Regions from separate parts of the Homo sapiens genome. Here region 1 is linked to region 2. The links come from fine-mapping of genetic effects on gene expression. A gene starts in region 2. The other region holds a variant in brackets. All regions are shown on one strand. Distances are between the middles of the regions. Region 1 has its middle 51 kb from the start of RBM38-AS1. Region 2 holds the start of RBM38 (RNA binding motif protein 38).

Region 1 (4,374 bases), 53 kb before region 2:
CAACTGATGGTTCAGGCTAAATTGTCAACTCATAGAATCATGTTTTAAGCAACTAGGTTTTGGGACGATTTGTTACATAGCAGTAGCTAACTGATACACTCACAGTCACACAACTGTTAAAGGCTGAGTCAGGACTCAAGGCAGGAGTCGGGTTTGTGGGACTCCAGAATCCATGCTCTCAACCTCTGTATTTTGCTGCCTCCCAGAAGGAAAATGAGGATAACAGGGCTCTAGCTGCTAAAGAGCCCTTCTCTTGTGTCCCAACATTCAGCTACATCTTCTAGGGAACGTGCCTAATCCCTGGCTCTCTCCTGCCCTGGCACCTCCTTTCATCCCCTGAGCCGTGCTCTTTCATCTCCTACCCTTACAAGGGTCTGGGTGGGGACAAAGCACTGGCTGCCACTTCAGGTTTCCCTGAGCCCCTACTTTGATCCGCTCCAACCCTGCTCGTTTTCAAGGTTTGTTCAGAATGCTGGCAAGAGCCAATGTTTCTACACGTACCTATCAGCAGCCATGATGAAAACCAGCTGTGAGGTTTAAAAATAGCCCCCAAGGGCTGCCAAAAATGCCAGGTCCCTGACTCGGAGAGGAGAAGCCAATCCCAAGGTGCGGCCACCATCATCAGGGAAGAGTCATAGCCACCACATGCCCAGGAGTCTTCCATGCCAGTCCCACAGGACTTGCCACAGGAGCTCAGCTGAGCCCGAGTCCCTAGGAGCAAAAGCCCCCGGAGAAGCGGGGATGGAGTTCGAGACCAGCCTGGTCGACATGGTGAAACCCCATCTCTACTGAAACTACGAAAATGAGCTGAGTAGTCCCAGCTACTCAGGAGGCTGAGGCAGGAGAATTGCTTGAACCCGGGAGGCAGAGGTTGCAGTGAGCCGAGATCGTGCCACTGCACTCCAGCCTGGGCAACAGAGCGAGACTCTGTCTCAAAGAAGGAGGAGGAGGAGAAGGAGGAGGAGGAGGAGGAGGAAGAGGAGGAGGAGGAGGAGGGAGGGGAAAATAAGGCAGGGCCCAGAAAGCCTCCCAGGGGCCTCTTCCCCCTCCTGCTTCCCACACCTCCTGCTGCCCCTCCCTCCTCCCCCCTTCCATCATTCTCTCCCCTTCCCTCTTTTTTTATTGCGTCCGAAGGGAAGAGACTGGGCTGTGGAGGGAGACTGCCTAGATCCCCCTCGGGAATTCTGTGATCCTAGGCAAGTGACGTCACCCTTGAGCCTCAGTTTCCTCATCTGTCACACGGAGGTCTGGCTTGCTGGGTGTCCTAAGGACCTACTAGGACGATGAGTCGGTGAGAGCACGATGCCGTCATTTCTTCTTTGGAGAAGGATGGGGATGAGGAGAGTGCCCTCCTCTCTTCTCCCTCTTTCTCCCTCCTTCCTGCCCTCCATCCTCTTTCCGCTCCCACACGCCCCTGGCCTGGCCCCCATGTGACGGCCCCCAGGGCCAGGGATCTGCCAAGCTGAGTCTACCTGCAGTGCAGCCCTGTTGCCCTGGGGCGCCCTGGGCCTGGCTCGCTGAGGGAGCCCAGACCAGGCCCGCTGCACCACCCCATCAGCTCCCACATCAGCCCTGTGCTGGGTGTTTGGCTCACAGCTATATCCCAGTGCCTACAATGCTGCATGGCACCTAGTAGGTGCTTAACAAATATTTGCTGAGTGACCGCAGGAACCAGCAGTAATTGTTCCCATTGACAAATGAGAAACTGAGGCTCCAAGAAGTTGGCTAGCTTATAGCAGAGCACAGCCCTTAAAGCTTGAGGGGACCCACATAAACAAAAGGGATAAAGGAAGGATGGGGGAATCTGCATTTTACATAAGATAACACAGACAAAATGGGGTAGGGGAACAATCAGATATGCATTTGTGTTTGGCAGGCCGGTCCTACCCAAGGTCCCAGAGGCGGATTTGAACCCAGTTTTGCTGGTGAATGACACCCCATTTTCTCATCTCTTCTAGCC[G/A]GCTTTCCCCTTACAGGCCAAAGCCTGTCACACAGGCGCTGTGTGGCCTTAGGTGATTCACACACCCTCTCTGAGCCTTGGTTCCTGCATTTGTAAAACAGAAAACTGACCTAGCTGCACTCAGGCACAATTTCCCTGGGCTCATTTTTCCTCTGTTCTCAGCATCCAGCACAGGCTGTGGCGTGAGGTCCACACCAAATAAATCTCTGTTAGTTAATTAATGAAAAGGACAAGTTTACTTTAGAGTATAAAAGTCTGCTCCGAAGCTCTCCAGTTACCGTCTCTGGGAGCATATTCTTTCTCTCTTCCATTTCAAAGAAAGAGAAACTGCAAAGGCACAAGATACACTGGAGATGTGGGTTATGCAAGGAAGATGAGGGGACCACCCCAAGCAGCAGAGCACCCCACCCCACTCAGAAAGACCTTTTTCCTCCATCAAAAAATAGGTGAATGAATGGGAAATGCCAGTCTTTCCATTGAAATGCAATCTTGAGGGACGAGTATTTCACAGGCCATGGACCGGCCTTGGTGCTGACTTTGACGCACACCAGCTCCTGGTCCTGAGCGTGTCAGCGGGGAAATGCCCTGCTTCTCCAGCTTTGCAGGATGGTTGTTCACGGCTTCTAGGACAGCGCTGTTCCAGGCTCTGGGAGACCCCGATGAGCAGCCGAACCCTGTCTATCCCTGAGGGAGCGGATGTCATGTGGGGCATCCGGAAGGTTCTGAGCAATTCTGCTTGGAATCTCAGAGGTTCCAACAGAACAGCTGCAAGTTACCAGTTGACACGTTCAAGCACCTGGATGGGTGGTCAGTTTCTGTAGATCCCAGAGAACTTTCTGGAAAGGTGGCAGTGTGTGCCCCTAGGGCAAGAGTCAAAGGTGGTAGCCACCCAGGGAGCCCCAAGGAGAGGTTCTGGCGCTCTCAGGACATCCAGGCCACACCAGTCTTCCAGGCACCCCCCCCGCCCCACCTCCAGGCACACCAGCTCTGCCCAGGTTGCCCAACCTGTATGTGTCCGGGTCATGGCCATCGTCACCCACAGCGTCACAGGCGTCCTGGCCAGCACCTGCCTCCTGCTAAAACGCTAAAAACAGCTGCATTACCTTGCCGGCCTCCAGTCCCTGAGAACAAACTCACCTGGCTTAAATAGAGTGGCTGGAAGAGCACTTTCATTAGGGGCCGCACATTCTGACATAGGGCTCCTGGCTGCTCCCCAGGTTGGGGGCTGGGGGGTGTCACTTTTATAAACTTCCACAGACCCTTCTTGCCAAGCCTACTGGACAACAGAGGCTATGATGAATCCAGGCTGACCGGCAGGTCCTGGCACCACTCACCTCAGAGTCTAAGGCCAGGCTGGAGTGACCAGGCTGGAGTGGTCAGGCCCCGCCCACCTGAGCTGCAGAGGGGCAGAGGGGACAGGGCCGGCTGCATGGGGTGTGACCTGTGCAGTCGCAGAGGGACCCTCACACTCAGAAGGGCCGCCTGTTGGTTTAATGCTCTGCTGTTGTCGTCTTAAAAGTCTTCGTCGTTTTTGAACGTTTGGAGGGGGGGCCACATTTTTACTTTGCACTGAATGCCTCTGAGGGACTCATAAGTGGGCCCCATCCCCCCAGGAGTCCCAGAACTCATGAAGGGGCTTCAGAAATGAGCAGCAGCAGAACCACAGACATCCCCAGGCCGGGGCCACCCTCTCGAGTATCCCGCGCCCTGGCTGTTGGGCTGCACGGTCACGTTCCCATGGTTGTGCTAATAGGGGTTGGGAGGGACATGCGTACACACACAGCCATGCAGTCACATGTGCAATAGCTGGTCACCCCACGCCTGCACTTCCAGCACTGGGAGTGGCTGGGAGGCCTCACCATGCCCCCATCACACCTAAGATAATGAGACAGCAGGGAGGGCAGGAGGAGCTGAGGAGGGGGTGTCAGGGACAGAAAGAGAGCCCTTGCCTCCCCCATCTCCGAGGAAAGGAGAGATCCCTCCCTCGCCCTGCTGTCAATCTTCCAGGAACTCCCTGCAGGGCCCTGAGAGGTGTGCATCTTGTCCCCTTGAACTCCCGCTGCCACCCTGAGATAGCGTTTGTATCACACCCATTTTAAGGATAGCAAAACTGAGGCTCCAAGAGCCAAAGCTGCTGGCTGGAACCAAGGCGAGCAGACACAGGAGCCTCATGCCCCGTAGTGGCTCCTAAGGGAGGACCTGCCCCCTGCCCCTCCCCCTGCCCATTCCTCTGCCCACACTGGCTCATGGTCATGGGGGTCTTCCCTCCTCAACCAGCACGCATGCGCCTTCCTCATCATAGCCACAGTTGGAGGGCAGGTCACTGCCCAAGGGCCCTCAGTGTGCTCCTGAGCCCGGGCCCGCTTCCCAAACCGCTTGGCCAGCCTTGCCCTTTGGCCCCAAAGACCAGGCAC
Region 2 (4,374 bases):
ACTACCCACCCCAAGCCAGCCATGTCCACTCACCCGTAAGTCCGCTGGATCAAGGTGGGGTGCAGCTGCTGCACCCCAATGGCAAAGCCTAAAACGAGAGAACAATCAGGGACTTGGCCTTGCTGCACGAGCCACGTCTCAAGGGCTGCACACAGGGTGGCAGAATCCCACAAGCCACACACCTCTAGTCAAAAGGGATCATCCGCTTCCTCTCCCCTCCCAGGCCTCCCCCTTGTGAACCCCAAGGCACACCGCTGAAGTGTGGCAGTGAGTGACGCAGGTGTCAGCAGCCACTGGTGTCGGCACTCCCAACCTCCAGGCCCCATGGCCACTTCCTCCCTCCTGCGAGGACAGCTGGCAACTGGGGTGCAGTACCCTCCCTGCCCCCCGCCCCCTTCTTTGGGCCACACGCTGTGAGAAGGGGTCTAGATCCTCGAGGGGGGGATGGCTGCCCTGTGCCGGCTCTGCAGGCACATGATAGCCGACTGCCACTGCTGGGGCGAGGAGGGGGGGCCTCTTTCCACCCGACAGATACCGACACCCAATATAGAAACCGAGAAGAGCCAGGCAGGAAAACACAAGCTCTCACCCGTCTGGAGGCTCCGCGGCTTGGCGCCCAGATATGCCAGGTTCACGTTGGCCTTGCGGCCGTCGATGATGGGGTTCGGGTCTTTGCAAGCCCTCTCAGCTGCCGCCCGGTCGGCCATGGTCACCTGGTGGAGCAGAGACACATCAGGGGCTGCCGTGGGGGGAACCAGGGGCGAAAGGGGCAGACGGCTCCGCCCTGGCACCGGATGCTGCCACCCCTCTCTTCCCTTCCTCTGAGGGTGCCTGTGACCCAGGGTCCTTGAGCCAAAGCTCCTCTGAACCCTACCTGGGGCTCTCCCACAAAGATGCCTCCTGGATTCCAGCTCCTCCCGTCAAAGTTCAAGGCCTGGGAAATGTGGCCTTCAAGGACAAAAATAATCCCCTGCGGGGATAGGGCAAAAATGAACCCCGAAGGGAGCTTGGGGGGCCGCCTGGACTTGCCCACCAGTGAGGGCCGAGACTTTCCTCTGAGAAGGAGTTTGCGACGCTATGCTTGGAAGGTAAGCAGGAAAGTGTCTTCAAGACGTTTTTACTTAAGCTGATGTTTATTTGGGGCGGCTGAGAGGGCTGTTAAAAATATGGGGGAGGCCGAAGAGCTCCTAACACCCCGGGGTGGAGCCATTGCTCCTCACCCCCCGCTGCTCCAGGAAATCCCGAGTGCCCTCTGGCTCCAAAACCTCCCCACCAACTTAGGAGTCCTAATTGAACACAGCGGCTCTTCCTTTTAAACCGGGGGTGGGGGTGGGGGTGGGGGTGGGGGTGGGGGCCGGGGCCTGGGGTGGTGGGGGCGGGACCGGCAGGAGCGCGCCCGGGAGAGGCGGCAGGTGCGGGCGCCGGCTGGAGGCGCCTGGGGCGGGGGCGGCAGCGGGCCGTCTGGGCGTGTGCCCCGGAGTGGACTCGGCGCCCGGGCCGCGATAAGGTGTGCGGCGGGGTGCGGGCCCGGGCGCGGGGGCCACTTACGAAGCCGTAGCCGCGGGACTTGCCCGTCTGGCGGTCGGTGATGACCACGGCCTCCTCGATGTCGCCGAAGCCCTCGAAGTACTTCCTGAGCGAGGCGTCGGTAGTGTGGTACGGCAGGCCGCCCACGAAGATCTTGGTGAACGTGGTGTCCTTCTGCGAGCCGTGCATGGCGCCGGGGGCGGCCAGGGGCCGCGGGAAGCCCGCGCTCGGGGCGCACGGCGCGGGCTGCAGCAGCATGGGGGGCGCCCCGCCGCCTACGGACCCGGGCCGCGCGGGGCTGCGCTCATGGGGGGCGGCGGGGAGCGCGCGGGGCAGCGAGGGGCGCCCGTCCAGCCGCCAGGCCCGACCACTCCGGCGCCCGTCCCGCCGTGCGCGCCGACGTGCGCCGCGCTGCGCTCCCGACCGGCGCTGCGGGGACTCTGCGCCCCGGCACCGCCCCCGGGCTTTGTAGCCTGCCGCCCCCGCCAGCTCAGCCCCGCCCCCAGCCGGCCCCGCCCCGCCCCGGGCGCGCGGGGACCGCCGGGAAGCGTAGTTCTAACCCCGCCCAGCCGCACCCGGGCGCGCGGCGATTGGGGGGAGGGGGGAGGGGAGCGCACGCGGGCTGAGGGCGGATCCGGGCCTGGGGGCGCTGGGCGCGCCTTTCTCTCCTGGCTGCCCCCGCGGGCCCGGCCGGTTGCAGGCACTAAGCACAACCCTGAACTAGGGAGGCCAGGCCCCTTCCCTCGTGGAGCGCACCGTCTGGTGAATTAAACGTAAAAAACGTAAAAAAACGTAAACGGTTTTTAGCATCTTGTTAATTGAGTCGGTATTTAACCCAGGGCGACTTAGGGAAGAGCCACGTGCCATATTAAAAAAGGGAAATGATTTCTGTTTTATATGTAAGATTAGTTCATCCGACCGATATTTACTCTGGGCGCGAGGCTGCAGCGGAGCACAGATCATATTCCCTGGCCCCACGGAGCGTCCAGGACTGAGAATTCGGCTAGTAAACATACAGCATACGACCCCGGAGGGAGCTACACCACGGTGCCGCGATAGAAGCGGGTCCCGGGCGGTCTCAGAGGCCCCGCGGGAGATGAGGTGGGCAGAGGAAGCAGGTGTGGGCTCTTTCCAGCTCCACCCCGTTCTGGGCTGGTGTCAGGGACCCTTGGGGCGAGTAAGAGCAGACCCGGGTCCCTCATCCGGCCCCCAGCCATAGAAAGGCGGCGCATAGTGGGGCTCTGTGAGCTTCACACCAGGCAGGGCCAGCCACAGAATTTTCGGGGCCCAGTGCAAAATGCAAACGCGGGGCCCCTTATTCAAAAGCTAGGAATTTCAAGTTGGCAGCGGTTGAGCATGAAACTCAGCCCCGGGCTTTCCTGAGCGAAGGGAAGGGCCGTGTGACTGCACAGACCCCGGGATCCCGGACCTGCGGGTCACACCCTCCACCTCTGAAGCCGGGACTAGGGGCCTCAAGCCCGCCTCATCTCCAGCCCCCGCGGTTGGGACCTATGCAGCTGGGAAACAGCAGCTCTAATTGGGGTCACTCCCGGCCCCAGCCCTGCGGCCTCCTCTCAGCACAGGGCGACGCAGGTGGGGTCTGTGGGGACTGGGAGTGGCACTCCGTGGGCTGTGGGGGACCGCAAGGCCGGCGAGGAGTTCCCCTCGTTTCCTCCAGCACCGAGGAGTTCTCCGCGTTTCCTCCAGCCCTCTGCCCTGGCTGCCGGCGGGGAGGAGTCTGCCCGCCCCCTCCCCCACTCCACGGCCCACGCTCCACGCGGCAGCCTTGACCTCTGACCTCTCCCTCCCCCAGCTCCCGCTCTAGCCCTCTGCACAGTGGGGATGGGACCCCCGAGTCTTCCGGAAGCCTGGGCGTCCTTTCCTCCCTTCCCCCTTCGTTCCTCGTTCCTGGCGCTCCTGCCCCCGCTTGCGGCCCCCGTTGCCCTTCATCCCGCGTGGTTTCCTCTCCTTCCTTCGCGGAGTTTCCCACCTCCCCGGCCCTGTGTGTTCGCCTGCCTGGAGCCCCTCCCCTGCTATTTGGGCGCTGCGAGAACAGGGACCTGGGATGTTTTGCCCAAGCTGGAGGGCCTGGCAAGGAGAGGGCTCTGGGATATGTTTGTTGAGTGTATCCACGATGGAACAAGGTGGGGTGGGGGAAAGCTCTGGCCCAGCCGGAGGCCCTTCGAAGCGACTTTGAAAACTTTCATTTAAGTGTGACCTTCACTTGCCCCCTAGAGGCCGGGGGAGGCGGCCACTGCGCGGCCGCGTGCTTTTGCGCCAGCTGGATCCCTTCACCAGGCCTCGGTTTCCCCTTCAGTTTTTCCAAGGCTGTCCCCAGCCGTCGCGTTGCCTGGGCAGGCTGGAGCCGCGTCGGTGGCGTGGCCACGGGCTTCAGCCCGGAGGCGCCCGGGCTCCCGGCCTACAAGTCCCAGCGCCGCCCGGGCCCGCCTCGCCCGCGCCCCTCCCGGCACGACAGCCCCACAAAGGGGTGCGGCCGCTCGGCTGCTGCCGCGGGGGCCGGGCCCAGGCGGCAGGGCAGCCCCGGGGCCTCTGCCTGCCCGGAAGGGGGCGGGACAGGGCCGTGGAGGCTGGAGACGCGGTTGCCCAGGTGCGGGTCCAGTCGCACTCCTTCGCCCCCCGCCCCCGGGCCCCCTTGGGTATCTGGATCACCAATCCCTCCCCCCCTCCGGCGGCCCCATGTCTCCACGGGTCACCAGCTTCTGCCTGACAATCAGTCATTCACCCAAACACACACTTTTTTTTTTTTTTTTTTTGAGACAAGGTCTCTCCCTGTCGCTGGAGTGTAGCGATCATAGCTCATTGCAGCCTCGACCTCTCGGGCTCCAA

What was found. PIP is the estimated chance that this variant, and not a neighbour inherited with it, causes the effect. A credible set is the group of variants that fine-mapping cannot tell apart.
Region 1: its variant is the best candidate, but not a certain one, in a credible set for the expression of RBM38 in pancreas (GTEx, PIP 0.90).

The regions. Positions count from the first base shown.
Region 1 is chr20:57,441,693-57,446,066 of GRCh38, reverse strand. No RefSeq gene overlaps it. Among named protein-coding and RNA genes, the nearest start is that of RBM38-AS1, 51 kb to the right of the region's middle. RefSeq lists enhancers at 4,019-4,374, 1,830-4,374. The variant G/A (reference allele first, on the strand shown) is at 1,961.
Region 2 is chr20:57,388,993-57,393,366 of GRCh38, reverse strand. RBM38 (RNA binding motif protein 38) reads right to left here and starts at 1,971. Exons shown (of 4, transcript NM_017495.6): 1 at 1,549-1,971; 2 at 590-713; 3 at 34-88. The coding sequence starts at 1,785. It overlaps RBM38-AS1 (RBM38 antisense RNA 1), which reads left to right and starts at 311. Exons shown (of 2, transcript NR_149006.1): 1 at 311-1,088. RefSeq lists enhancers at 309-498, 1,253-1,752, 1,753-2,254 and silencers at 1,349-1,538, 1,889-2,288, 3,899-4,278.